4 separate regions of the Homo sapiens genome follow, and regions 1, 3 and 4 are each linked to region 2. The links come from fine-mapping of genetic effects on gene expression. A gene starts in region 2. Each other region holds a variant in brackets. All regions are shown on one strand. Distances are between the middles of the regions.

The links. PIP is the estimated chance that this variant, and not a neighbour inherited with it, causes the effect.
Region 1: its variant is fine-mapped to the expression of PLEKHA1 in whole blood (INTERVAL, PIP 0.98).
Region 3: its variant is fine-mapped to the expression of PLEKHA1 in ovary (GTEx, PIP above 0.99).
Region 4: its variant is fine-mapped to the expression of PLEKHA1 in whole blood (TOPMed, PIP above 0.99).

Annotation. Positions count from the first base shown.
Region 1 is chr10:122,402,077-122,409,620 of GRCh38, reverse strand. It overlaps PLEKHA1 (pleckstrin homology domain containing A1), which reads right to left. Exons shown (of 12, transcript NM_001001974.4): 5 at 2,948-3,045. Among named protein-coding and RNA genes, the nearest start is that of MIR3941, 11 kb to the left of the region's middle. The variant T/C (reference allele first, on the strand shown) is at 4,483.
Region 2 is chr10:122,370,839-122,378,382 of GRCh38, reverse strand. It overlaps PLEKHA1 (pleckstrin homology domain containing A1), which reads right to left and starts at 3,675. Exons shown (of 12, transcript NM_001001974.4): 1 at 3,577-3,675. RefSeq lists silencers at 3,068-3,267, 3,278-3,437, 3,458-3,527, 3,568-3,677, 3,818-3,967.
Region 3 is chr10:121,483,137-121,490,680 of GRCh38, reverse strand. It overlaps FGFR2 (fibroblast growth factor receptor 2), which reads left to right. Exons shown (of 18, transcript NM_000141.5): 14 at 2,568-2,690; 15 at 3,257-3,327; 16 at 5,149-5,286; 17 at 6,878-6,983. Among named protein-coding and RNA genes, the nearest start is that of FGFR2, 110 kb to the left of the region's middle. RefSeq lists an enhancer at 5,079-5,612. The variant A/T (reference allele first, on the strand shown) is at 3,547.
Region 4 is chr10:122,424,312-122,431,855 of GRCh38, reverse strand. It overlaps PLEKHA1 (pleckstrin homology domain containing A1), which reads right to left. Exons shown (of 12, transcript NM_001001974.4): 10 at 6,897-6,960; 11 at 4,825-4,914; 12 at 1-2,232. The coding sequence ends at 1,918. Among named protein-coding and RNA genes, the nearest start is that of MIR3941, 11 kb to the right of the region's middle. The variant CAAAGTA/A (reference allele first, on the strand shown) is at 4,116.

The sequences.
Region 1 (7,544 bases), 31 kb before region 2:
CAAAGTACTAATTTTTAGATTCAAATCGAACATTTATTTTTAAATTTTAAAAAAGACATGTTTAAAAATAATGGATCTCTGTTCAGGAATAAACCATATATATCTTAGACATTCCTTAATAATCAATAAGGGAACAGAAACCACCATATTTATGTTGTTTCCACTATATTTCCACTATATATATTTCCACTATAAATGAACAGTGGAAAGCATACTTTAAAATTTGATTTTCCTCACTCCAGTCATTGATACTCCCCCTTCGGGGCTGATTCTCCCACTGTTGCTCTTTTCCTTTTTGTGCGTATGTTTAATACAGATGGTCCAGGACTTACAATGGTTCAATTTTTCAACTTTACAAGTGGGTTTGTTGGGGTATTAAATGGATTTTCAACTTGTGTTTTTGACTTACAATAGGTTTATAAGGATGTAACCCCATCATAAGTTGAAAAGCAACTGTAAAGGGAAAAGAATTTCAAGTGGCACCCACCTAGACTCAAGTAAGGAAAGTCACAGACTATAGCGTTAGAGGATAATGGATTAAAATGGCAAGATATTATAACTAGGAAATAGTTTAAAAATCATCATTCCCTTACCCATTGCCCTCTAACCACCTCTATTTTGAAACCACACACTTCCAAACTCTAATTTTGGATTTCCAAAATTTTAAAATTTATATATCACACAGTACTTAGCAGACCACTAAATTAGAGTTGACCAAAATGAGAGTGATCCCATAGAAAGATTTATGTATTAAGTACATACATCAAAATGTACATTTTAAGTTTTCAAATAATCTACATGTAAATCATCAGCAATGTTCACAGGAAAATATAACAAATTGGAGATTCCACACTTTAATACACTTAAATGTATAAAATGCACATGAAACTGGTAAGATATTTTTAAGGAATAAAATTAACATAAAGCATCTTATTAAAGCATAGGAAATTATTTCATTGCTATCCTATGAGTTAAATGTGTGTCTATCAAAAGTTTATTTTTAATAAGTACTATCAAATCTATACTCACTTTAATGCAGTTATAACCACTTTATTAAGTAATAAGGATTTCTATAACTTCTATGTATTTATATTTTCCAAATGTGAATTATAAAAACATTAAAATCATTTACCAACAAATTTATCTTAAAAACTATAAAAATTTCAACAGGTAAAATAAAATTGCAAGACCACAAAAGCTACTTAGAAGTCTTTTTAGAATTCTATTTAGAATCTCTAACCTGTTTTTCCTTCATGCTGAAAAGCTTACCAGTGTCATTTGTATAAGACTGTTTCATACCATTGATAAATCAGACATAGCAATTCAAGACCCCCCAAAATGGTAAAAAGCCTGAGACCATTCACTACTTTTTCTCTTAAAGCACTAAGAAACCAGTGCTGCTTGTTATTGCAAATGGTAAAACATGAATTTAGTACAGTTACGAGATATTATCTTTCTAAAGAAATTTTTCAAGCAGGGAATATTTATTAGAAGAGTTAAAATGATTAGCTAAAAGCTTTTAAGAATATGTATGTCTGAATCAGGTTAAAAAATTGCTTTCCTGACACTGCACAAACCTAAAATAACTTCTGCTTCATGTACAGATCAGATGCGGTGCGTAGGCGTTTTCTGTCATGTGGTAACAAGCTGTTCTAGAGCAAAACAAAAAGATTCGACTAAACTCTGAGAACAGCTTTAACTATATTGACTCTTTATTGTGTTGTGATATAAATAGGAAATTATTCATTTTAGATGGAAACTAATGAGTGACTAACATATGCTGACTTTCAGGGCACATGTTCTTTGAGAATAAGTCACTTAGGGTCAGTATATAACTGCACTTTCTTTAAAAAAAACAAAAACAAAAACGCAATTGACACAAATCTCACAACACAAGAACTCCTTCCCAACATTTTCCAGGCAGGCCTGCTATGTATTTCTCTACAAAAGTGTAAAGGGAAAGGTGAGGCAAGGTATAATCAAAATAGAGCCTATCTACGTGCTGCTCATCATCACTAGCAAACTCTCTCAGTAAAGGTTGTTGTTGGCTTTAGGAACAAAAGAGTAAGGAGAGGGCTGTTCTTGTTCAGGAAGCAGTAAGGCACTGCACTTCAGAGTTCGGGCTCCAGAGGCCAAAAAACTGGACTGGGCTTCCAGCTCCATAATCTACCAGCTATAACACTGGTAGATTAATCTTTCTAAGCCTCACTTTTCCAGTTCATTTAAGTAAAACCTTCGGTCTAAGATCTGGCACAGTGTTAATAATCAATAAATATTCATCAGGAAACCAAAAAAGAAAAGAAGCACACATTAGAAGCAAGAAATTGTAGCATGGGAAAGGAGGGCAAGGGTACCAAGCCCTGGAATGCAAGGAAAAAAATCAGACATGGGAAGAAGTTTAGAGCCTGAGACAAACTTCTCAAGGGTCACATGGACAGGACCCTCTGGCTGCCGCAACCCTTCAGACACTATTCCTATCCCTAACCCTCATTTTTCAGCCTTCATCTCCCCTTGTCCTGCTCCTGTTTTCAACTCTTTCCCTATCTGACCCCAATCCCAGTCATGGCTTAGAAGAGAGAAGTGCCTATTCCCCAGGTAGGTGACAGGAAATCTCTTACACTATATTGGAAGAAAAATATATATCCTCCCGGTAGAACTCTACGTGCTAAGCGCATTTTCTCCTAGAAACGTTGCAAGAAGTGATTAAGATCTGCAGTAATATATCTCCTTATTAGGTGCATAAGTTAAAAAGACAATCATGGGCTGATTAAAGTGCCAACAGTCACCAAGTACAAGAAAACATATTCACATTCTGAACACCTGTCTTTTAAACAAAGCTTGAGTATGAAACCTGTTGGTAAGCTGGGAACATTTGGTAGGTGTATTTTCAAAATGAAAAGATTAATTCCAGACATCGAACGTTTTTCAAAAAAATACATATACTTACTGTAATTTTTATAGCTTTGTTTAACACATTTACCCATTCCACTAGGTCCTGCTGATCATTGGCTTGTAGGAAGTACTTCCTCATTCCTGCATTCATAACTGTTGACAGAAAAAAATAACACACCAAATATTGTACTTATTACCTCTAAATTTATGTTTGCAGTAGCTGAAAAACCTTGCTAAGTTCAACACCGTGACTCTCGTGGATTTGACAAAATATATCAGACCACATGTAATACAGCTTTTATCACACAATAACACAGGTAAAACTCTTATTTTGTTATGGCCATTTTGTTTATTAAATGGATACACCACAATACATTTAGTCAATCCCCTAATGATAGACACTTAGGCTATTTCCGGTTTTTGAAATTATATAAAATATCACAATGAAACATCATATACATATATTTCTCCACACTTGGCTAGCATTTCTGGGTGATAAATTTCTTGACATAGATTTGTTGGGTCAAAGACAATTGACATTTAAACTTTTTATAGGTATTTCCAAATCATCTTCCCACAAAGTTGAATCCATTCACATTCCTACCAACCACATACACATTTTATTTCATCGAATACCCCTCACCAGAACTGGTTGTTAGCACCTGTGGATACCTCTAGTTTCTAGTTTTCAAAGGCTCTGTGGCACTGGGGCTGGTAGTCTGCAAACAATATTTCCTAGACCCCATCTGAGGCCATTCTCTGCCACTGGGAGGTACTGATGAGAGACTGTAAGGTGGGAGAGGGGAGAAGGAAAGAGGAGACTCTCCTTGACTCCTGCTGTTGTTGACCTCTCTCCAACAGCAGCACACAACTAGCTACTGTTAGGAGCCTTTTCCTGCCCCCTATGCCAGCCTTGCAGAGTCCCCTTGGATACTAATAGCTCCATGGTGGCTTCTACTCCACTGCCCTAGGTTATAGTAATACTACTACCCCTTCTCTTTTGTCTCTCTAGCCCTTGAGTAGTAGTTGCTTCATGCGTCTAATTCCTGGGTTACTTCAGCATTCCCTTCATGTTCTTTCAGCCTTCCAATATTTGGGTAACCAATTCCCCATAACAAATCCCTTAGGTTTGAAATATCTAGTGTGCTGTTTTCCTGGCTAATACTCTTTAACAACCTAATTGGTAAATAATTGTACCTTGTTCAAATTTTAATTTCTTTGGTTATTGAGATAAATTAGTTTTGTAAGTTTATTGGCCATCTGCATTTATTTTGTAAGTTTTGTTTACTTTCTTTACCCACGTTTCTCCTGAATTCATTATTAATTTATAGCAACTTCTTTATTAATCTTTTCTGCTTTATTACCAATACTTTACCCAGTCTGTTTTACTTTAACAGTATTTTTGATCAGACAGAAATATACTATGAATCTTTTCTATAAATGCATCCAGATTTCATATCATCTAGAAAATCTCCCTAACTTAAGATCTATTTTTCTAGACCTTATGAATTTCCTTTATATTTTGAATCTTAATACATTTGGAACTTTTATGCAATTTAGTTTCTATATTCCCCTTTAGGGACTAGGTAC[T/C]TTTATCAAGCAAAGCACATGTGCACATACAGTTGTCTATAAACTATCATAGTCCACTCTTGAATTAAAGCTATTTATTATACACCATCTGCATTTATTTTTAAAAGCATAAATATTATTCTAGGAGCTAAGTATCTGAATAGTTATACTGTTGCAATTGTTCAAATATAAAAATAACTTCCAAACGTCTCCACCAAAATTTTAAAAGATATACTAGCACACAGTTCAATGTGACTGAGAAGGGGAAATGCAAACTCTCAAGGAAAACACACAAGATTTTGAAATTGGGACTGAGACCAAAACACTCTAAACTACAGCTTCCTTGAATTGAGATGAAGGTCTCAGAAAGGAAGTCAAAGCCTATCTTGTAAAGTGCTACAAAACAACCAGTCTATAACCTTAAAAGAAATTTAACACACTGGAAATCTGTTCTTGTACATCTTTCTAGAGACTGGAAAAGTTATAACTGCCATAAATATGTATTAAGATAAATCCATAATTCACTAGGATGCTATATCTATCAATAAATAACTTGTTTTTAATTTCTAGCCATCGGTAAGGCTTCCTTTTATAATCTTTTTTCAGCTTAGGCTGAAGCAGAGCTCTCCTCATTCATAATGGCTTCTTCCCCTCAATGTTATTTTGGGCATCTGCCCAGAATATCTGAAGAATTTAAAAATCTATGCACTTACTAATATACTACACTTGGTACACAGTAAATGCTTAATACATATACTTTTGAATAAATATATAAGGATCTTTTCTAAGGGAAGGAAGAGATGCAAATATATATCTAAAAAAGACCCCTAGTATACCTTGCAATCTGAATAAAATCTCATGTACTTTAAGAATTACTTCATGGCAAGACGTAGATATATAGGTATGATCTAGAAAAAAAAAATCAGTCTGGAATCAATCCAACCTGACTAGCTTATGCACTTACAAGCAATATCATCTTTTAAACATTATTTAATTTCTCTGAGCCCGATACTCCTCATCTGTGAAATGGGAATGTCACTCATTCCACCTCCTTAAGAGGTGACGATCATATATGTAAAGAAACTAACACAGTGCTTGGTATAGAATATTCTTCACTGCCATCATCTGGAGATTTCTAAGGAGTAAGGAAGCACTATAAAAAATGTAAAGCAGGGCACAGTGGCTCACGCCTGTAATCCCAGCATTTTGGGAGGCCAAGGCAGGCCAGTCACTTGAGGTCAGGGGTTCGAGACAAGCCTGGCCAACATGGTGAAACCCTGTCTCTACTCAAAATACAAAAATTAGCCAGGCGTGGTGGTGGGCACCTGTAATCCCAGCTACTTGGGCGGCTAAGGCAGGAGAATCGCTTGAACCCAGGAGGTGGAGGTTGCAGTGAGCCAAGATTACACCATTGCATTCCGGCCTGGGGGAGTGAGGCTCCATCTCAAAAGAAAAAAAAAGGGGAAAGCAAGTTACTGAAATGTGGTGTATTAGCAATATTGGTGGTGAGGGGAGAAAGGGAAAGAAATAAAATCTTTGAACAATAAAAAAAAAAAAACTCTGACACTGCTAAGTTGCCATAAAAACCCTAAAGCAAGGGTTTCATTGTGAATAATACATGCATCCCTAGAAGCTTGTATCCTTCCTATCTTTTCCACTTGAGTATTTAACTTCAAATCTTTATGATTAGAATGAATACATAAAATGGATAAAACTTGAAGCATAAACATTAGCTTAACTGCAAACAAAAATCATCTCACAACCTGAGATCAACTGGTTATGAATATACGGTTTTGGATCAAGAGGTTCTAAGGTATTTTATCATATTCTTTGTCAATTTTCCCCACTCTGTTTTCTCTATTCTGTACTTTCCTCTGTCCTCTCAGTCTCTATCAGATGTTGGACTTCCTTGATGGTTTTTATCTCTTTTCCATTATCTATCTTTACCTTTGTTGTACTTTCAGATTTCTTTGACTTTTTCAAAGAAATGCAAAATGAGTTTTGCATTGTCTCATGTTCCTTCTCCTGTTTGATAATCCGCTCTCATCAAATGTTCAGTAATCCTGGGCTGTCTATTCATATTTTAAAAGAAAGTGCTAAAAAGACTGATGAAAAGCTCTCTTGCATTGTCGTAGGGCTGTTGATTGTGGACCTTACTAGTCAACTATGGCAAGCTCTTCTAGTAGAAATGCCCAGATGTCAGTCAGTATCTATGGATCTTTTCTCTAGGGTAGTCAGATCTTACTCACCTAAACCTGGCTGCCCAGTGCTCTGGGGCTGGGGTTGCACTGATTGTGCAGACTTTCATTTAAGATATCTTCCTATTTTCAGTTTCGTGCCTCATTCCTTTCGTTCTCTGGGACTAGTGCCCCTAAATATACAGCCTCACTGATTCTATTTCTGGAGACACCACACATCCCATTACCTGCTGGGACAGAAGAAGGGTGTCTGCCCGATTGGAGGTAGGGAACAGAGGTTGTTTCTGATACAGATATGCAAACAAAGTCCCTGTTTTTGGTCCTTCCTCACTGTTGCTTCCCCAGAAAATGTATCTCCTATACCTAAGCCTATCTAGAGTTGGGGTGGGGGCAGAACACTTAAATGGTTAGCTTTTCATTGGCCTCTTCCTCCACTCTGCTAAATTATCTACCATTCCTCTATCTACTTTCCAACTTTATACACTGAGGGTTACAGATACTCTGCTCCCTCCATCAAAAATGGCTTGCACGTTTCTTGTTCTCACTGGTTTGGGACAATCTGAGAGAAGATATGTTGCCACTTTGAATGAAAGTTGTGGTTCTATTTTAGAAGTCAGTGCTTCTCTCTCTGAAGGTAAGCATTTCATGAATCTTTACTCCCACTAACAGTAGAGGACTAATAAACTATTGCCTGACCAATGAACGACTAATCTTAGTTTTTGATTCCAACTAAAATCACCCATTCTAAATACTCCAATAACTATGAATGTCAAGTCTATTACTGTATGTTACTATTCCTGTAAGTTTGAGATTTTAGAAAAAAAAGGGTTGTCAAAAGTATGTGCATTATACATTCTAAAATACAAAGTTCTCAGTTATTTGACT
Region 2 (7,544 bases):
AGGGGGGTGGGAAAGAGCCTACAAAATACAGTTAAAGGCAGTGAATAGTGAAAATTAAAACTCATTAAAACTCTTGTGTTTGTTCTCAGTAAGCTTGGACTGCTGAATAACCTGATGACATATGCAATAGCATTCTCATCCTTAATAATGGGAGGGAACACCTGACATGGAAATTCTCAGGAGGGATTTACTGTACCGGGTAAGATGCTACATTAGAAGCCCTCTGACATCACTTCCAATTCTAGTGCCTGTGATCGTCTTTTCCTTCAAGAGGTTAAATTCAATCCAGAATCTAGAGTTCAATGGTTAAACCATAAAAGGCTAGGCTGCCTAAAGGGCTAAAAACCACAACTTTCTGGAGAATAAAGCTATCAGACTGACAAGCCTGGTAAGAGTTCCATGTAGGAAACAATATTTTGCTCTAAAACTTATTTAACTTAAAAAAATCTTAAATGACTAATTTTCTTTTATATCCAACAGAAATTCCAGTTCAAAGAAAGCTTATAAAATCCCAAAAACCCTATCTTCCTGAATATTATCAATTCAACTAATTAAAAGGCTTACTAAAATAAATAGCAAACATATGTTTGCTTAAGCATCTTCTAGGAATCACAAACTCACATATCCCTTATTAGACAGTACCCACAAGAAAAAAAGTTACTTAGGGTCAAATGGTTTAATATTGCTCAGTAAGTGTAAGAGAGTTCTAGTGCTATAACAAATAACAGGATGCTTTATGTTTACATAAAAACATCCCATATTTTTATGTTTCTAAAAATAATTAAGCATTATAAACAATCATCTAAAGCTACCAAGTTTTCTGCCCTTTCTGAAAGCATTCCTTTCAGACACCATGTCAATAAATTCTTAAATGCTGGATGTGTACTCACAAATGGTCAAAAAACCTAAAACCAAATCTTAATATTTAACTCCTATTGAAGTCATTTTATTGTATCATTGCAGATCTAAAACAAGATTTTTTAATCTTGAAATTTAAATTTTAATATTAACAAAAGTAAACTGCTCCAGCATGAGAAAAGTAATTATTTGCATATTACCTCAGCTCACAGTTGGAATCAAATAGGAAATACTTTAAGGCAGTTAGTTATATCAACCCAAAATTTTCTAATAAAAGCAATGTTACTATTGTCACAAATAATTACTACACTATATTCAGAAAACTATCTTCCCCATTCTCAAATAAGTTATTTAAACAATAATGACTTGACATCAAGCAATATGTCAATGTCAAAGTATGACTTAAATTATATTAATAAACTATTTATTAGATTTCATTCTGGGTTACAAATTATCACACAATTAAAATAACTTCGGGATTTGCAGCATGACTAATAATAATAAAGAACTTCCAGGCTTAAGTCAAAAAGCCACTTTGTTTAAATCTCCATTAAATGTTTTTTGTGGGGGGAAGTCCCCATAAAAATGTAAAATGTTTCCACCTTTCCCAAGTATCTTCCTAGGAGTGGTCAATATTGTCATATCCTATATGTTAGCAAACGATACTTGAATGACTTTTAAAGAAAAGAATCCAATGCTATTCTTAACATCCTTAAACACTTCTAAAAAGGTCCTTCCGGCTTATGAACTCATGGCAGTTTCCTCACAATTGTATACTTATCCTGTTTCACTGTCTCTCCTAGTCTATGACAAACTCAATTTTACACACCATCTTTCCTATTTTGTTACACTGCTAAAACTGGGGAGAAAAAAAGATACAAACCTGCTACTTTCCCCCCTCCCAAAGCGACAATGAAAATACTAATTAACAAGATAAAGATTGGAAGCTCTGCGCGCGCCCGCGCGGTGTGTATACACATATATTTATATTATATATATATATATATATATATATATATATATCTTCTTAATGTCACTAAATTCACAGCCATATATCTTGATACAGGTATACGCTACAAGAGAAAACTGTCAGTAGATACAGTGTAAGGTTTACGGCAGTATAAAATAAATTAACTACTTTATTAATTCAAATTCTGTCAAACTTAAATACTCTTTTTTAAATGTATCAGTACTCTAAAATGCAATTTTCCTTGGGAAAATTGGCCAAGATAAAAAATACTTTAACTCCACTAGGGGAAATATTTCTTTTGCCACAAGTGTGTCAACAGGAAAAATTAAGAGCATGAAAAGTAAACAGGTATTTTGATCAGAATAAATCTTATTATTTTAATATAACGGGTCTTCAAGTTCTTCAGATTGTGAAGAAAAACACAGTTTCACAAAACAATCACATAACTCTTACCCAAACTTTGCTGTAAATGGTTTCAGTGGCATCAAATTAACATAGAAAGTATGCAAGCTGAGTACTTGGGAAAATAAAGCAGATTGATCAGGAGTTCTAAGATGAAAGACAATGGTGTAAACCTCATAGTGCACTATTTGTTCCAGTCATTAAACACACAGGAAATAAGATTTTCTATTTAGAAAACTAACTCACAAGGGGCAATGACTTCATTAAAACAAAGAAAATCTTATTAAAACAACGATCAATTGTAAAATAAGAAAACCAGTACTGCAGAATTGGAAGGTGAAACAAACAGACGAGGAAAACGCAGAAACTGCCTGGATATTTATTTGTTCCTTGAACCTCTTCTTGTACTGCCCCCAGAGAGCAAAGGAGTTTCATTATTTATACGCCCAGACCACGGTAGATGCTCTGCGCGGGGGCACAGCCTCACCAGAATTCTACCAAAGGCGGTAAACACTATAAGCAACAGGACCGCTTTCATTATGACACACTTTCCCCTCTTTCCAGGAGGTCAATAGAAAGCATCTGAAACAAACCACAAACCACTCAAGACGGCCCCAAAGCTCTGCGGTTGGCAGCTGGCCTCGGCGTCGAAAGACCTGGGTCTGGTCGCCTCCCCGGTGCCACCTGCGTGACCTTGGGCAAGTCGCTTTCAACGCTGCCTCTGGCCACCTGCCCCGAAGGTGCGGAGGTAAATCGCGGACACCGCCCGACTTCAGGGCCCAGGGCGGAGCCGGCTTCGGCCTCGGCAAGTCCTGAAGCCAAAATGCATTAAACACCAGGAAAGGATGCCCGGGGACGCGCGCCCCGCGGGCACAGCCCTGGAGGGAGGCGCTCCGACCGGCGCCACCGGGAATCCCCGGGCAGCTGCGCGCACCGCGCCCCGAGCGGGATTTCTCGGGGGGCGGAGACGCCGAGGAGCTCGTCGGCCCCGCGACCGCCGCGGGCCTCCCGCCCTCCCCCGCCGGGCGCCGCTGAGGGCTGACGTCGGGAAAACAATCGGGGACCCACGGGAAGAAGACGCCGCCCCCTCCCGCTGCCCCAAGCCAGGGCAGGTGAGCCGGCCCGGCGGCCTCCAGGTGCTGTGGCGCGTGGCGCGGACGTGCGCAGAGGGGGCGCCGGCTCCGCACTCACCAGCACCCACCGCCCCTCTGCGGACGCCTCCCCGCTCGCCACAGCGGGAACCGCGCTCCAGCAGCCCGGCAGCCCCGCAGCCGCCGCCACCTCGCGCCTGGCCCCGTCCACCACCCCTGCTCCAGCGCGGCCGCGTTCTTCAAGCTAAACTTTACCGCGGCCTCGGCCCGGAGCACCCGCGCCGCCGCGGCCCCGGCTCCCACAGAGGCTCGGCTGCCCGGAGCGGCGTCCGCGACGGCCAGCCCGCGCACTGCGCACGCGTCCCCACGCTGCCTCAGCCCTCAGACGGCGGCTGAGATTCCGGAGCGGGCGCTCCCAGCCCGCAGAGACTACGAGTCCCGGCAGGCCCCGCGCGGGTCCCTGCGGCGTGGCGGGCCGAGTTTCTGGCGTCTTCCTGGTTCCAGCGGCGGCGGCCTCGGCGCGCCGGGGAGGCCTGCGCGCGGAGCTCTGGGCCGCCGCGCCGCGGTGCTTCCTGGTATTCGTAGTTTTTGACCACCACTGGGCTTGGCTCGGAGGTAGAACTCCGGGTTCTCTGATGTCATCGCCTAGAGCTGCGAGGAACAGGGATCTTTAAAAATAGGCTTCGTTAGTTTGCAGATAATTTGTTTGCAAGCTGTCCCATAATCGGTCCAAGTGTCACAAATTTACAGGCTGCGGTGTGACCTGGAGAAAAACGCTTTACAGCTCTGCGCGCCAATTTTTCGCTCTTCTCTCTCCCTGCAAATGTAGCTCCACTGCCTACTTACAATGGTGTTAATAGTACAGGAGGGTAAGAGAGACTTAAAGAAGGGTTAGTCGAAATTCTTTCAGCAACGGTGGAGCATAAATATGTATTCTGGTAAATATTCGTTGAGTGTTTAGCAATTTCTCGAGCACTTAACTGTGTGCCAAGTACGCGATAGGCAACCCGGCATTCATCTGAGAAAGAGACACTGTCACTGCCCTTATGGAGCCTGCAGCTTGGGGGAAACTCGTCCGCAAACTAGCAAAATCGTTCCAGATTTTAATAGAATGGCCAGACTGAGAAAGTTCAAGAGACAGTAGCGGTGGCGGGGACGGGGGGAGGCTCTTCAGAGAGAGTGGCAAGGCAAGTTCTCTGAGGATGTGATATCTGAGCTGAAACCTGAAGAATGAGAAATATTCAGACAGGCAAAGAACTGGGAAAGAATTACATGCCACGCCTTTCACAGCGCATGCCACTCTAGGCTCTTAATAAATATTTGTTCTTTTTGTGTGCTTCTTCCTTTCCTCTCCTTGCACAACCTTAGATCACATCCTATCCCCTTCAAACCCTTTAAAAAATCTTTATCAACATCTTTTAGAATATCCTTCCTATGTGAAAATGTACATGAAACAAATGTCCAGTGGTAAGACAAGCTGTACAGCTGCTAGGACAGAAGACACAACCCTGGTGACAGGCTGGAATCTATCTACTTTGCCACTTTCTTTATTTGCGAACTGGGTTAGAAGTCTGGGGGCTCAGCCTGGCCTCCTGACTTGTTTCTCTTCATGGGGCATCATACAGGATTTTGAGTTTGTCTTTATTAAAATCTTAGAGGAAGCCTACCTGTTATCTGAATCAGAGGTGTAGTGAAGAACAGCCCTAGATTTTCCTGTGTAGACTTACCTATGTGACTTTATGCAGAGAGTGACACTTTGCCCTTCTGACCCTCAGTGACCTCGACTGTAAATGAGTGTCATCCACCCTGCCTGCCTTGCAGAATGTTCTCAGAGTCTGATAAATTGATGGAGGTGAAAACATCTTGCAAACTGCATAGAACGGCTCTCTGACTGCCTCTTTGAGACTTAGCATTTTCAATTGCCTTTCATCCAACGTGATATTTTGGTTATCTTTTGAGAAACCTTAGCTATGCAGCCTTGCTGACATCTGTCCCTTTTGGGGTCCTCATCTGTATAATGGTTGAAAGGGTTTGGCCTCACTATAGTTTATAAAGTAGCCAGAGCAGATTGTTTCCTTTGGTCCACACAGTGGGTTTTTGTTGATTTAACTGAATGTGTGGTTAACATTTAAAAATAAAAATCTAGGTGTCACCTGTCTTATCCCTGTAGGCATTTGAGTTTGCCTTCCCTGGCTAGAAGGTCTGGAAGGAGTCTCTAGCTTGTCAGTGCTAGAATCCTAGAAGATTCCAGATGGGAAATTTGTTTATTTGAAATTCAAAGTCAAATTCACATCTTTTATTTGATCTGAAAATACTGGTCCTGAGAATAGAACACTTAGGCCAAGAGCCTCTCACCCTCTCCAGGCTGGACCCGCCGGATCTCTCTCCTAAATGTTGTTTGACATCATTGATGAGTGGTTTGAAATTGTTCCTTTGGCCAATGTGATGGCTCCTGCTTGTAATCCCAGCACTTTGGGAGGCCAAGGTGGGCGGATCACTTGAGGTCAGGAGTTTGAGACCAGCCTGGCCAACATGGTGAAACCCCCTCTACTTAGCCAGGCATGGTGGTGGGCACCTGTAGTCCCAGCTACTCGGGAGGCTGAGGCAGGAGAATCAACTGAACCCACGTGATGGAGGTTGCAGTGAGCTGAGATCGTGCCACTCTACTCCAGCCTGGGGGACAGAACGGGACTCAAGAAAAAAAAATTGCTCCTTTGTTCTTTTTGCATAACAAGTCCCCAAAACTGTTTATCATTGAGAGCCATATTTACATACAGTAAAGAAAGCCAGAAAAGTAACTCAGTTTGCCCAAGGACACACAACAAGATAATCCCAGGACTGCTTTGAGGTTGCAGTATAACCAGAACTTCATAGCTCCCGATCAGCCAATAAATACAGAGACAAAAAAAAAAAGCTCTCTGCTTTTCTTCCAGCCTCTTTTTTTTTGGATGCAGAGGTTTATTACATAACAGTGCTTTCAGTGCTATTTAAAAAAAAAATAGTACAGGGAAATTACAGTCTGGGAGCAAACCAAGAACACTCAGGACTCACTGAAGGCACTGAGGAATGCTGGAATATTCCATGGCTACTTTTCATCTGAAGAAAAAGGAGGAGTCTGAATTCAAGGATCTATAGTTTAGCTGTTTACTTTTTTTTTTTTTTCTGCCGGAAGGGACAGAGTCTCGCTCTGTCGCCCAGGCTGGAGTGTGGTGGCACAATCCCAGCTCACTGCAACCGCTGCCTCTGAATTCAAGTGATTCTCCTGCCTCAGCCTCCCAAGTAGCTGGGATTACAGGTGCCTGCCACCATGACAGGCTAATTTTTGTATTTTTAGTAGAGTCAGGGTTTCTCCATGTTGGTCAGGCTGATCTCGAACTCCTGACCTCAAGTGATCTACCCCCCTCCTCAGCCTCCCAAAGTTCTGGGATTACAGGTGTGAGCCACTGCCCCAGCCTGCAGTTTACCTTTAAAGTATCACTGTCATCATTATCATCATGCTTTGCACGTGTGAAGTACGTTGATGTTTCATTCAAAAATAGCTCTTGGGCCCCTTCCATATGCTTAGTGCTGGGCTCTGGGGCTTCCAGACAGACGTCAGCCCCTCTGACAACACAAAAAGCAGCGTACAGAGGCACGCAGAAAGCTCCTGAATGCTAGTCACCTCTCTAATATTTGATGTCTGCAGCATTTCCTGCATTATCTTTTTCCCCTTAGCAATGGTCACTTTTGTACATATTATATATGTGCATATATATTTTTTTTTCTGCATATCCCTCTAAACTGTAACCTCCACGTGGCCAGGGATTTTATGTTTTGTTCCTGCTTGTATCCTTAGTGCCTACAACAGAAGTATGTGTTGAATGATGAATGCCACAGTCCCCTTTATGGACAGAGCCAGCATCAGAAGCCAAGCAGAAGGAGTACCTCCAGAAGCAAACCTCTGTTCTAACCAGAAATCAGAACCAAGATAGAACAAGAATTAAACATGAACTGAACACTCTCTGAACCCGGCTTTGTTCTTTTTGTGTCCCCTCCAGAAACTGGGTAGCAGAGAGTTAAAAACGGCTTTTCCCTATTTTTTAGTGTAAAAATGGCACAAGAACTCCAGGCAGCGAGTCAGTGGAGTTGCTTCTGTGGGTGAAGAGTCGGAGCTGGCTTTCTGACCCTGCCTCACAACTGGCAATGACCAAGTGAGGGGAAGCATGATTCTCAGTAATCACCCC
Region 3 (7,544 bases), 890 kb after region 2:
CTTTCTGCTTCGTATGATAGTTAACCTTTGCCAATAACCAGTGTAAAAGGCTTCGGTGGTGATATTTGCTTCTTTGTGTCTTATCTCTTCCCAAAATAGAAGGTGATGATTGGAGACCCTAATTACCTTGTATCTTGTGGAAATCTTGCTATATGAAAGTGTAACAAAAATGCAGCAGCTCACAGTAGCGTATCATTTGTAGAAAGGAAAAATCATAGGCCGGGCGTGGTGGCTCACGCCTATAATCCCAGTACTTTGGGAGGCCGAGGCGGGTGGATCACTTGAGGTCAGGAGTTTGAGACCAGCCTGACCAACATGGTGAAACCCTATCTCTACCAAAAATACAAAATTAGCCTGATGTGGTGGTGGGCACCTGCAATCCCAGCTACTTGGGAGGCTGAGGGCAGGAGAATCACTTGAACCTGGGAGGCAGAGGTTGCATTGAGCCAAGATCGTGCCACTGCACTCTAGCCTGGGAAACAAGAGTGAAACTCCGTCTCAAAAAAAAAAAAAAAAAAAAAAAAAAGAAGGAAAAGTCGTAATAGCTAGATCTTTCTGAGACCCAAGAGTTAGTGTCAAGACAATAAATTAGCTGTTCTGCAGCAAGTATTTAATATTTCAGTGTTTAGAATCAGTGTATGTGGCACATTCAGGCTGAGGCCAGGTGTTAGGAGAAACTGGACTGAGAACGTGGATAGACGGGCATTGGCCATGGTAGAGACCAAGAAAGGACATGACTAGTCATTTCAGGAACCTTAGTCATGGGACATGGAGGAGGTACAACAGGGCTAAGTTTGGAAGCGTAGAGACCCGCTAGACGGGCAGTGTGGAAGTCTCAGGGGGAGGGGCAGACAGTGAAGATGGCCTGGACTAAGGCATTAGCAGTGGGAAAGGCATGGTGTGGACACATGGGAAGGCATTTTGGAGTTGAAATCAACAGGACTTGGGAGGAATGTGTAAAGAATACCGGTGTATAGCTCTCCGATTAAGAGAGACAAAGCATTGGAGGAGTTGAAACCTTGAATTTGAGACGTCAAGGGAATGTCAGTGGGGAAGTGTCCCATAGACAGTTGAAAATGAGAACATGGGTCTCAGGAGGGAGGTCATGATGGAGATACGAACTTGCGCATATTTTGTATGTGTTTAGAATTAATGCCTTGAGGATATATGGAAATACATAAACTTAATGGAACAATTCCTCTATTTGAAGGGACAGAAAAAGAGAAGAGCCAGCCAGAGATTCTAAGAGGGCAGGGAGAGACAGAGAGGCAGCTGAGGGAAGGGGACGGGATAAAACTAAACAGAGGGGCTGGGTGTGGTGGCTTACACCTGTAATCCTAGCACTTTGGGAGGCCGAGGCGGATGGCTCACCTGAGGTCAGGAGTTCGAGACCAGCCTGACCGACATGGTGAAACCCCGTCTCTACTAAAAATACAAAATATTAGCCGGGTGTGGTGGCAGGCACCTGTAGTCTCAGCTACTCGGGAGGCTGAGGCAGGAGAATCGCTTGAACCCAGGAGGCGGAGGTTGCGGTGAGCCAAGATCGCACCATTGCACTCCAGCCTGGGCGACAAGGACAAGACTCCATGTTAAAACAAAAAAAACAAAAACAAGAAAACCTAAACAGAGGGACCATTTTAAAAAACAAGCAAGAAATCAATAGCATCTGAAGCCACAGAGGAGGAACAACTGAGGAGTTGGAGGACGTCATTTGCGTCTAACAATTCAGAGGTTCTTCATAAGCTTCAGGAGAGGCAAGAGTGGAACACAGATTAGAATGTTTGAGAAGTGACCAGGAATGAAGAAGACACAATGTTGGATTTTAACCAACGCTTCTGAAAATTCAGGTTTAAAGGGCAGGAGAGCAAGTGTTGAGAGAAAAGATTTTAGGATGATCAGATACAGATCTATAAGCAGCTGAAAGAAAGACACTGGTGTGGCTGGACAACTGGAGGTAGAAGAGAATATGGTTATTTAGTCTACCTTCGCTCTTCAAAATGATCATTCTATTTATTTATAATTCCAAAACAAATACATGTCGTGATCCAGGCTCTCCGATGATCCCAGTTGACCTGTCTTCTTAATCTTAGAGCCACACTGCGTTTTCTTTTCTTTTCTTTCTTTTTTTTTTTTTTTTTTTGAGACAGAGTCTCACTCTGTCACCCAGGCTGGAGTGCAATGGCGTGATCTCAGCTCACTGCAACCTCTGTCTCCCAGGTTCAAGTGATTCTTGTGCCTCAGCCTCCTGAGTAGCTGGGACTACAGGTGCACACCACCACGCTCGGCTAATTTTTGTAGTTTTAGCAGAGATGGGATTTTGCCGTGTTGGCCAGGCTGGTCTCGAACTACTGACCTCAAGTGATCCGCCCACCTTGACCTCCCAAAGTGCTGGTATTACAGGCATGAGCCACCGCACCCGGCCACACTGTATTTCTTATAGTATACCGCAACTGGTTTTTAACATCAGCTATATTTTCTATCTGCATTTTAAGAAATGAACATATTTCCTTTTTGTTCTGGCGGTGTTTTGAAATTAGTTATTTCTCTTGCTTCTTTCTTGATTTCAGTGTATTCATCGAGATTTAGCAGCCAGAAATGTTTTGGTAACAGAAAACAATGTGATGAAAATAGCAGACTTTGGACTCGCCAGAGATATCAACAATATAGACTATTACAAAAAGACCACCAATGTAAGTCGATGGCAGTAACACAGTGGGCAGGGGCGGGGGTGAGGCTCAGAATGTTCCAGGAAGAAAGGCCGTCAATGTTGAGAGCTGGGTGGGATGGCTGGGGACCCATTCCCCTGCCCCGATTCCCGTTCTTTTGACTTACTATTCACAAACTCTCAATATGCAAATTTAGCCTCTATTATGTCAATTTTAGTAAATGTGAAACACTTATATACAGAATAATCAGCAACCGCTAGGATTTTCTTATGGTTCTCATCAAGAACTTTCATAGCAAAAACTACAGCTTGGAAGTTACTGGTTTAATTTTTGCCTAATAACTGGTCAAGGAGCATCTGTGTGCTAGGGAGATAAAGGATAGAATCCAAGGAGATGGCATTTTATTAACGGCCCAGACCTGTGCATCTCACACATTGTTCATGGTCCTCATTGGGACTGATTTCTGCTCTATTGACTGACTAGTAAAAACCGAGAATATCAGCTCTTAAACAGGGCATAGCCCTATTGAGCCTGCTAAGATAAATTCTTTTAAATATATTTAGTTTTTGCATTTTCCTCTACATTTGCAGGGGCGGCTTCCAGTCAAGTGGATGGCTCCAGAAGCCCTGTTTGATAGAGTATACACTCATCAGAGTGATGTGTGAGTAACTCTCTTTTCTCTGGCTTTTTCCTGGGCTTGAGCTGCAAAAATACTGTACGTACTTCACCTTTCTTCCTTCTTTAGTGGCTGCTGCATTTCACACATTCGTAGAAGGTGCAGGAGCTGGCCTTAGAAAGGACAGATTTTATGGTAGGCTGATAACCAATGCTCTGTTACTAATCTGCCTGGCTTCAAAGAGCACAGAAGGTGGAACTGCTG[A/T]CCTCCCCCTGCCAGAGCGGAAGTCCTTCCCTTGAACATATTCATGGATGTGCAACTACAAAGCGGTTATCTAATTCGCCAAGCTCTTGGCATGTTCTTCACTCCATTAAAGGAGTAATCCTGGAGCTTTTCCCACTTACGAGTAGTTTGTCATATTTCCCTCTAACCCAGATTTGTCCTTAAAGAGTGGAGCTGAGTGAGATGTGGTCCAGGCTGGGGACCTCCACAGGGTCTACTCTCTATGTTTATCCCTCAACAAAAAGGTCTGATCTTGCTTTGGCATCCTTGATAGCATTCTAGAAACACAGTAGAATATTTCTATTATGATATACTGACAAAACCAGTGGGGTCAGGCTCCAACTGATATTTTAGATTTGAAAATTCAGTTGAAGGCTGTGTGCAGTGACTCATACCTGTAATCAATCCCAGCACTTTGGGAGGGCAAGGCGGGTGGATCACGAGGTCAGGAGATCAAGGCCATCCTGGCCAACATGGTGAAACCCCGTCTCTACTAAAACTACAAAAATTAGCTGGGCGTAGTTATGCGTGTCTGTAATCTCCACTACTTGGGAGGCTGAGGCAGGAGAATCGCTTGAACCTGGGAGTCAGAGGTTGCAGTGAGCTGAGATTGTGCCACTGCACTCCAGCCTGGCAACAGAGCGAGACTCTGTCTGGGGAAAAAAAAATCACTTGAACTATTTTTTATTTGTATGAGCAGGAGGAGTTCTGGGTAGGCATTAATTCTGTGCTACCATAGTTGGTCCTCTCAACAATCCTAAAAAAAAGACATGACTATCCCATTTTTGCTGTGAGCAACTGAGGCACAGAGGCTGTTCTGCCTGTCCTGTGCTGCTGCTTTTGCTCTGTAGAAAACTGCGGAGTGAAACACCACCATCGAGTACAGAAGGTTGAGTTTCCAGAACGACCATGATGTAGCTAAACCTGGCTCTCTCAGCTTGCTCCTCCCAGAGATTGAGCCTCCTGAACTTGGCACAGGAAGTCCAAATCTCTGAAGAGTCAAGTGTAAATAAATTATGGCCTGTGAGATGTGTTCAGTTTTGTTGTGTGCAACTCATCTGGGGCATGTGATTCCTCATCCTAACCCCAGCCCAGTGCTGATTGCCTTTGCGATCTTAGTAAGTTCCAGAGCCTCTGTGCAGCAGATGTTCCGCCAGCCACACAGGGCAGCTGTGATCCTGCGGAGTTGGCTTGCTGGCCTTATTCTGTCAACTGCCCATCCTGGTAGATCACAACCCTTGGGTCAGGCACATAAGGAGTTGGAAAGGAGCGTAAAGGCTTTGAAACTGAGAAACTGAGATCCTTGCATTGCTAACACCACATTTAAGACAAGCAGCTCTATTCCAGAGTGATGGCAGTTTGCCTTTTTGTCTATTGATGGAAAATTCCATCAGCACATCCCCGTGTCATCATCATTCGGGGATGCTCTTGCAGGGCAGGAAAGAGCACATAGGAGGAACTGCAGGAGGGCCCATTTGTCTTTGAACTTCAGAAGTGAGGAGGTGTTTATGTCTCAGCTGGGCGTGTTTAGGTTTTGGCAACGTGGATGGGTTAGTAATGCCGTGCTTTCTCCTTTTGTTGCAGCTGGTCCTTCGGGGTGTTAATGTGGGAGATCTTCACTTTAGGGGGCTCGCCCTACCCAGGGATTCCCGTGGAGGAACTTTTTAAGCTGCTGAAGGAAGGACACAGAATGGATAAGCCAGCCAACTGCACCAACGAACTGTAAGGGCTGTTGTCTTTCCTGCCGGTGCCCCAGTGGACTTGCCACACCAGTAATACCTCTCCTGATGTATCTCGTTTTTGAAGGCCCCTGGTTTCCTAAACATGCTCTAAGAAGAATGGCTGAAGCTCTCTGGGCTCAATCCAGAGCTGGGATACATAGCGACACCGACAACCATTACTTGTCTGAGAGAAAGAACATTATTCTGAGTATGGAGAGGGCTTTGGATCAGAGGGTGTCTGGCTGCCTGGCTGAGGGCTCCTGACTTTGCAGAGCCAGCAGGAGTGGTCTTCCTGGGCCACTGTGCTGCACCTTCTGCGGTCTCCCGTGGAGTGACAGGAAGACCCACGGGTCAGGAAACAAGCTAGAAAGCCGCGGGGCCGCCCTGCAGGGTGTAGGATTAAGGAACCAACACAGCCTTTCCCTGGTGGTTGTGCCTGGCCCCCGCCTGGCCCCATCGTGGCCAGTAGAGAATCGGTGTTTCCAGAACTTCTCGAACCATTGAAAATTGCCATTACAGATTGACGCCAACCACATTTCCTCAGAGCGAAGGAACTCGTGTTTGGTTACCTAGGTCTCACTTGTGTTTTAGTGCAGAGAATTAAACATGTGTCCAGGCGCCCTCCTTACTGTACCAGATCTGCCTGTAAAACCATGAACTGGTTTGTAGCAAAACCTGCCTCACACTTTAAGTGGAGTTATGTTGTGTTTGTGACGTGTGCCTGGTGCAATAGAATCAGTGCTTTGAAAGGAGTCTCTCTGCCTCCTGCCTCAACCCCTCCAGGATTAACTAAGAAGAGTGATTGTCCCAGAAACTGCGGTCTATTGTGTATCATTTCATGGGGATTTTATATCAGTAATCCCGTGAGTGCTTTTCGGTGTACCGTGGATGTCTGATGAATGGCCACATTTTATAGCATATTATATAAAGGCATTTATTGTGCTCTTTGTCATTCCTATTGTTTTTTTTCTTTTGTAACGTAGAGGATCTGTCGAAACCCAAAATCAAGATAAGACCTGGGAAGCTAAGCCTATCTAAGAGTTAATCAGGAAGTTAGTGTGCAGCCCAGTGGTGGCAGATTAATTCATCAAAAACTTGAAGTTGTAGTTTTCAAATTTTATTTAATTTTTTTTTAACTCAGGAAGCTGTGTCAACTAGAATCATTAAGACCCAAAGCACCGGGCAGATAAATAGTGGAGCTGCTTTGGTGCTGGGCAGGGTGTCAGGGGAGGGAAGACTGGAGACCAGCCCATGGAAATACGCATTTTCCTTCAGCCTCCAAAGCATCTTTAGGGTGTGACGCCATTGTGAGATGTCACTGTGGCCCAGGGTTACCAGGGAAAACACATAGCTGTGTCTTTCTTGATGGCTTCGATGCCTTTCTAACATGTTTTTGTAAGTCAAAGTGCCTTTCGGAGGAACTGGCAGGGAAGCTTTTGGGAAAGTGATTCATGACCCCCTAATCTAGTTGCTTGGAAGGTTCTGATGCATTTTCCTAATTTACACCACGTCCCCATATTGCCTATTAAAACTGACTATAACCACGTACCCAGTGCATATGAAATTAATTCAAGGAAATCCATTTTTCCCAGGTACATGATGATGAGGGACTGTTGGCATGCAGTGCCCTCCCAGAGACCAACGTTCAAGCAGTTGGTAGAAGACTTGGATCGAATTCTCACTCTCACAACCAATGAGGTAAGAACTTCCTTCTAGAAGCCCCTTGTCCTTGGTTGTCTTGTGAGACATGCGTAGTGTTTTACACACACACTCCCCTGTTGGCTGTTGGTTGGAGTCTGTGGTCTTGTTTATTCTTTTTCCATAGGGTCAGATAGTTCAACTATGGGTTCCTCTCAAATCATGATTTTTCTCAGAACTTCATTTTGTGAGTTCTGACTCATGAAACCAAAGACAGAGGGACATCCCCGAGGCTGCCTTCAGTGTAGCTGCTGGTGGAGCAGTCCGGGGTATGTGGGAGAGTGGGAAAGGGGAAGCAGTATTCACTTGCATTTTGGTGTGCATGGGAAAAAGCTTGGATTCCTGTGCAAGTTTGATTCTGTGCTTTGGTCATTAGTGGGTAAACTGATAATGTTCGTCATCATTTGCTTGATGGAATACAATGAAGTTTTCTAACACCAGCTTCTGTTACCACAGTACTATCCTATGTGATCCTGTTGGTAATGCTATATGCCTTGCAGCCTCTTTCTAGGTGTATATAAACATACACTGTTTTCTACAATGAGCAACTTACATGATTTT
Region 4 (7,544 bases), 53 kb before region 2:
AAAAAGGAACTTTCAAAAAAGCCATTAAAATGAATATATCAGCTGAAAAAGTGATAACTCATTAAAATCTCTTTATTCTATCACTTTCAAATGTAGCTGCAAAAGAGAAAAAATCTTAATGTAACTTTAAAAAAATATTAGCTTATGAATAAAAAAGTTGAGTGGTGCATTCTTTATGCATACAGATTTTTAAACTGATATTGTATAATTCTAATACATCTTAACCTCTGGACTGCACTGCTGTAGTAGGAAATTTTTCTGTCTCAGACAAGAAGTCATCTAAGAAAATGAAAACGAGAAATTTTCAATGATATGCATGAATTCAAAACAAAACAGTACTGTAAAATGGCAAAATATAAAAATAGCAGCATGTGAAATTCAAGACTGTTTTCTTAAAGCAAATGTTTAAGACTGAACCTCAAAAACGGTACTTATGGGCCGGGCATGGTGGCTCACGCCTGTAATCCCAGCACTTTGGGAGGCTGAGATGGGTGGATCACCTGAAGTCAGGAGTTCGAGACGAGCCTGGCCAACATGGTGAAACCCCATCTCTACTAAAATACAAAAATTAGCCAGGTGTGGTGGCATGCACCTGTAATCCTAGCTACTCGGGAAGCTGAGGCAGCACAACTGTTTGAACCCACGAGGTGGAGGCTGTAGTGAGCTGAGATCACGCCACTGCACTCCAGCCTGAGCAACAGAGCGAGAGCCCGTCTCCAAAAAAAAAAAGCAGTACTTACTCAAACTGGTCTATAATTCAACGTCGGAAACTAAAGATTCTTTAGAGAGGTGCTTATATCTATATCCCTATGATTAAATGTATTCTCAAATTTGTTTTTTAAAACATATATATTGCACAAGTAGTAGAATACCAGCATTCTGGTATCTCTAACATAAAATCCTATCTTAACACATTCAACTATTCTACTGAAAATTAATTTTATCACAATGTTTAAAATCAGTCACGTAGGACTTTTAAGCACATTAATCTCAAAACATTCCTAAACAAGATGAAAAAACACAGGCACTTGAATGTAGGCTATTAGTGACAAAAAGTAGAGGTCACAACAATTTCATGACTAAGGGCAGTTATGTCTTTACATATAAACTTGAGGTCTTTCACCAATCCAAATATAGAAATAACAACTATTTACAAAACTTGGATAAGAAAATCAGATCTCCCAAAAATTTCCTACCAAATAATTTTTGCGGAATAAAGCAGTGACTGCTCCAAGGCCTGATGAAGCTTTTTCAAACAAATGTCTAAGACACAGTTGTTTCAATTCTAGTTTTCTTCTTTTCTCTATGCCGGTATAACCCACAACCCTTACTGTTGGTCTATCCATATCCTCTATGCAAAATAAGTCACCTCAAGATTCAGGGCATCAAAAATGGTTATAATTTCAAAATAGTCCACATTTTAGTATAAATTTTACAGCACCACAGACATCATGAGTTTAGGTATCTTGGTCTGGCAATATTTCATGTGGTAATATCAACCAATAAGAATGTGTAAATATTGAACCTTTAATAGGAAGTCATTGTAGCATTTTTTAAATGACCAAAGTTATTAATAAGCATTTTTAATGCTTTAAGTTGTTAAACATTTAAACTGTCAAAATCACTAAGAAAAAAATATTACACATACATTGTTACCACCCGAATGAGAACACACAATGCTTCAGACAGATGATACTGAGATATTTTGGATTTTTCCTTTTTCTTTCTTTTTTAAAGAAATTATATTTAGTTTGGCCACTCCCTAGATTCTTGGTTTACCAGCTTATAAAGAGTACACCTAAGAGGCAGTATAATATACGCACTAAAAACCATTTCCCCCTTTATCATCTTTGGCTAGAAGCCTCATGAAAGGAAACTGAGGACGGCAGAGGCAGGCAGGCTCCGTGCGCTTCTGCCTCACACGTCACTGACCGGAAGGCTCGCATCGTCCAAGTCTACTAGGTCACAATCTTTTTCCTGAGGGCCATTTTTACTTTGAGGTCTTAACAGAGCTTGTTCAGTCACTTTGGAAGCTGGTTCTCTTGGAGAGACAGTCTGGACCTTGAAGTTCCCTGGCTTGACCTTGGCAAGAGACTCGTAAAATCCTCGCTTCTCCATGGTAAAGGTTGAGACCAAAGAGTTGCTGCGAGAGGCTGTGGAATGTGAGGTGGCGGTGGCTGCGTTGGTAGGACGGAAAGCGTGTTTGGATTCTGAAGGACCGGGGGGATGCTCCTGCAAAAAGGAGTGGCAGTCAGACACGGTCAGTCACTCATGACCAGGTTAGTAACTCAGTGTGAGACTTGATTCTCTGAAAAACAAATAAAACACACACACACACACACACACACACACACACACACAAAGGCAGCAGCAGAAGCCATGCAGCATAAATGTGCAAGTTCTTTCCCAAAGCAACGCGTTTTTAGAGGTGAGTTTAAAGCAATGATAGCCAAAAACCATTTCCACTAGGAAACCAGTTCCGTCACCAAAGCTGAATTTGGCAGCCTATGACACTTTGAAGATTCAGCCAACCTAAACTGAAATACAGTGTTCCAGCTGCAACTGAACTGTGTTTAAAAGAGAACCTCCCAGCTGTATCATTTTATTTAAGAGTATATTCTCAGTCAACACTAGGAATTATCCCACATATTTTAGAATGAAAAAAATTAAAATATAGACTATAACAATGAAAGGCCATATTTCTTTAATAAGCACGAATCATCTTTCAAACATTATTCTGCTGATAAGACTTAGTTTTTACTTCCCTGAATTTCACTGCAACCAATAATAGCACAGTCTTTTCATTTTTTACTTAATTTTAGTTCTGAATAGGTCATATATTCATATGGCTTAATATTTTAAAGGTAACAAAGGGTACACATTTATCACATTTTAAACTGTGGTGAAATAATTAGTAGTTGAGAATGTTAATTTCAATATGCTTCTAACTAGATCAAATCTGAAAATATCCTTAAATATGACCATTCTAAATACATTGCTATATACTAGTATATTATATTCATTTATGATACCAGTGGCTTTGAAATCAAAGTGCTACAAATTACCAAAACACTACAGAGTCCTATTAGATGGCTAAATTTCAGAGATTTTTAAATGCCATGCAAACTATAGTAATGTACAGTTTATCCAATGCATATGCATGCATTAGTTTGCATATATTATTAGAACAATGGTGCATTTCGTAAGTATTGTATCTTAAAAATTTTTAAATACATAATATAAAATTGAAACTCTTGCAGCAGTTGAGTATATTAATTTTTATATGTTAATGTCTCTTTCTGTTAGTAAAGTTGTATGTTTTATTTTTTATTTTTAAATACACATATCCAACCTGATGACTACAGTGAAACAGTTTGCGTTAGTATTGACAAAATCAGTTATGATAACTGCAAAAGGCAGTTTGGTTAACTCAACTTTCTATGATCAGTTGTAAGTAGTAAGTCTGGGCCCTCCACTAAGAAGGCACGTTTGCGTGAGAGCCCACATACGTGCTGCATTCACCAGCTCTTGATGTATACCTCTGTATACAAGGGTTCGACAGCCTTCTGGCCTGCCGCATCTGGAACACAGTGCAAAGCTAAGATTAGAGTTAACCTATACTGGGTAGAGGGAGGAAAAGAGAAAGTTGTGCTGACAGTCATAGCTAGATAGTCCAATCTGCCCCCACCACAAAGCACAAAACACAAACATCCTTCTCCAACTTTTCCTCTTCCCAACAGACACTGTTTTTGCAGAGAGTCTCATACTTGACTGCTGAAAAAGTCACATAAAATACAGGCAGTTACAAAATGAACATCTATGAAAGTGACTTCTTAGATATTTCAAAAAGGATATAAAGAGAGAATGACTTAACAACTAAGAAATCAGAAACATTGATTTCTATTTATTTATCTGTAGTTATCACTACCAGAAAACTAATAAAAGGCGGTATTATAATACTATCAGAAAAAAATATTAAAAGTGTAAGTAACTAGCATATATGTCATAGTAAATCTAGATAATAAAGGCTATCATGCTACATATGAGACTACTTTCCGCAGATGGCAGTGTTACATTTTAAGATACTTTAAATTTTCAGACCTGAGATCAGTGGC[CAAAGTA/A]TTCCAAATGCAAATCTAATTCTTATGTACTTGAACACAAGAAAAATCTTTTAAAAAAATATTTCTGAGCAGAATGTTTAGTTGTATTTCAATTTTATTATCATACTACCACAAAGATAATTATGGTAGTTTTCAGAAGCAGGCTGTTAAAGCAGGTTTTAAAATGAGAATTAAAACATGAAATGGAAACACTGGGAGCACTGAACTGTATTTAAGGCCCCAGCTGCTCAGTGATCTGATGGCATGGTTAAGCCAAAGGTAAAAAACAAAACAAAACCAAAAAACCTGAACTGAAATCAGAGGAAGTAAAGAGGAAATTGAGACGTTCACAAAACTGTGTAACGCTACAACTAAAAGTCTTACATGATCCTGATCACACACCATACTAAGAATCTGTCAGATTATGCCAAATCTAGAGCTACTGACAAGTAAGAACTCCTAAAACAAAGCAAGGAAATGTTTATTCTTTAGTTGCCCTACTTGTGCATTTAACACAATACAATGCACAGAAAGTTATGTATACATAATACTACAAGGAAGCATTAAATTAGAAATGCATTATTTTTTGCAAGTCCAATTGGTATAAAAGTCAACATGCAAATAAATCTCAAGAAAGAAAGAAACCGGATGGATTGGGAGAGAGGAAATTTGATAGGATGGGGGAGACGCAAGGGAGTATCACCCCAGAGAGCAGGAAACCTACAGAAGACGCAGATCTGCCGGGACCCCGCTGTGCTACAATGGCGCCAGAGACTGCTTTAATCCAACTGTGCATCTCTTCAGGGCTATCAGCCTAAAGGAAAAAAGAACTCATTCAAACAATTTTTTCTCAAAATCACCTACTTCTATACAGCCAATGTATTTATTTTGATAACTTAAAATACTGTCATCAACAAAATCACTCTAAGGCAACTGTTTCCAAAAAATTTAGAAATCATTTTTTTAAAGCCAGGTTTTGCTAGGTCTTAACTACACAGAGACATAAATTGAGCACTTCAATGTCAAGATCAGACCCATCAACAGGCGTCAATAATGAATACCTCCAGACAGAAAACAAGGAGAGGAGGAAGTCCAAGAAAAACCCTTCTTATTTCACTCTACCTACTGCTACACTGTCTGAATCTGCTACAAGAATATTTATGTAGTTGTGTAATTTTTAAAAATTCTGACATTCTTTTACATATTTTTCTGGAAATAATTTCTAGTAGTACCCTAAATCCTACAATAAGTATTGACAGATACGTCTGGCTTTCAATGTGAATTTTAAACCTTACTATGAAATTAATCCAATTAAATAAGGCCCCAATCGGGGTGCAGAGATACTGCCTCTTGTTTCTAGATTCTAGAATCCCTTACACTTCTAGAATCTAGAAATATGAAAAAGTTTAAAATGCAGAATATTTTTGAATAAGTAATATTAACAAAGACTAAAAAAAAAAAAAAATACAAGTAGCCAAAGGTAGAGTATACTTCATTCATTACTAATGGAAATACAATTCTAGAAATCAATTTGACAAAATAGAAAGGGTCATGCTCTGATAGTTAATCTCGATCTAGAAACTTACCCTAAAGAAATCAGGCAAAGTAATGCACAAAGATGTTTTTCATCATTTTATTACAGTAAATGTACAAAAACTATGCACATGAACAGAGTAACACAGACACAATACAGCAACAGAGTAATACAGACACAATTTACTGGTGGAACATCAATGGAGTATGGTGCAGTTCTAAAAGGTTTTCAGATAATTTTTAATGACATGGGAAAAAAATAACAATATATGAAACAAATAGGATATAACACTATATTTAGTATGACCCCACCTATTATAAAAATATATACCTTAAGAAAGGGAGCAAAATCATAAGAATGGTTGCCTCAATGTGGGACTGAATGTTTTATAAGCCACATTTTTCTGAAATCTTTCTATATTTTCCAAGTTTTCTGGAATAAGCATATTTAACTTCAATAAAACAAAAACAAATCATCCCTTTTTGATTTTTTTTTTTTTTTTTTTTTTGAGACAGGGTCTCTGTCACCCAGGCTGGAGTGCAGTAACACGATCTCAGCTCACTGTAACCACCTCCTGGGTTCAAGCGATTCTCGTGCCTCAGCCTCCCAAGTTGCTAGGATTACAAGCCTGCACACCACCACGGCTGGCTAATGTTTGTATTTTTAGTAGAGATGGGGTTTTGCCATGTTGCCCAGGCTGGTCTCGAACTCCTGGACTCAAGCGATGTGCCTGCCTTGGCCTCCCAAAGTGCTGGGATTACAGGTGTGAGCCAACACAGCCGGCCCAAATCTTTTTTTAAAATTTTCCATTTAAATAATTCAATGAAGTATGCAAAAAGTACAATTTAAACTTAAATACAGGATGCCTACTATTAGTGAAACTATATAAATCTACTGTCTACTTTTACTATGGGTTTTTTTAATAAGGTTACCAAAAAATGATATAATAGAAAAATCAAAATTCTAAAACATGTGCAAAAATAATCCAACTTGAAAGTACACACTTAACATCTAAATTAAAAGCATTTCCCTTTCTCTAAATACTTAGTTCTAGTTCACTAATTCATAACAAATACTCCCACTTCCTGAACATATAACCCCACCAATAACTCTATATACAGTACCCTTTTATTAAGCTGGTGAATTACAGTTGTCATATTTTTTTAACCTCAAGTGCAACAAGCTTGTTTATGTTTATTTCACCTCTAATATTATTAATTTCTTTTTAGGAGGATCTATTAATTGCCAAATAAGCATCTTACCTGCACATAGAAAGTTCGAGACGTTGTTACAATTTCAAAGAGGTTGTCCCTCATCATTATGTCGCTGTATGAAAAAAAAATCCAATTATACTTAAATAGCAGTTGTTTGAGTTTCTCTTTCATTTGTTTACCCAGTACCCAGTATGCGTCAATAAATAAATGAGGTAAAGCACTGATTTAGCAAACCCAAATTATCTTTTCCCATTTATTTTAATGTAAGATTTTACATATTTCATGTAGTTTCACTTTTAGAAAAAGTTCACAAAGCAACTTTAAAGTTCAGAGTTTTTAGTAATCAGTTTGGTGAAACACTGTCACAGCTAACACATTTTCTTGTGAAGCTCTATTCTACTGCATCTTTTAAACACTTAATACATCAATTTGTCAAATCTGATGGCCTAACCATAAGTTGTTCACATTAAATTTATTCCTTTCCATTAGTAAGCTGTTTCTGTATTTTTAGTTTTCAAAGAAACAAATAAACGATTCTTTCCTAATTTTTAGTTTTCAAATGAACAAAGTAGTTCAATACTTTACTCTGAGGGTTTTGAAAATTCTAGTGTATCTCAACTATAAAGAGTTAAAAATAACTACAATTAATATGGAAAAATGTAATCTGTAAGTACATTACTCAAACTAAGGCACTAT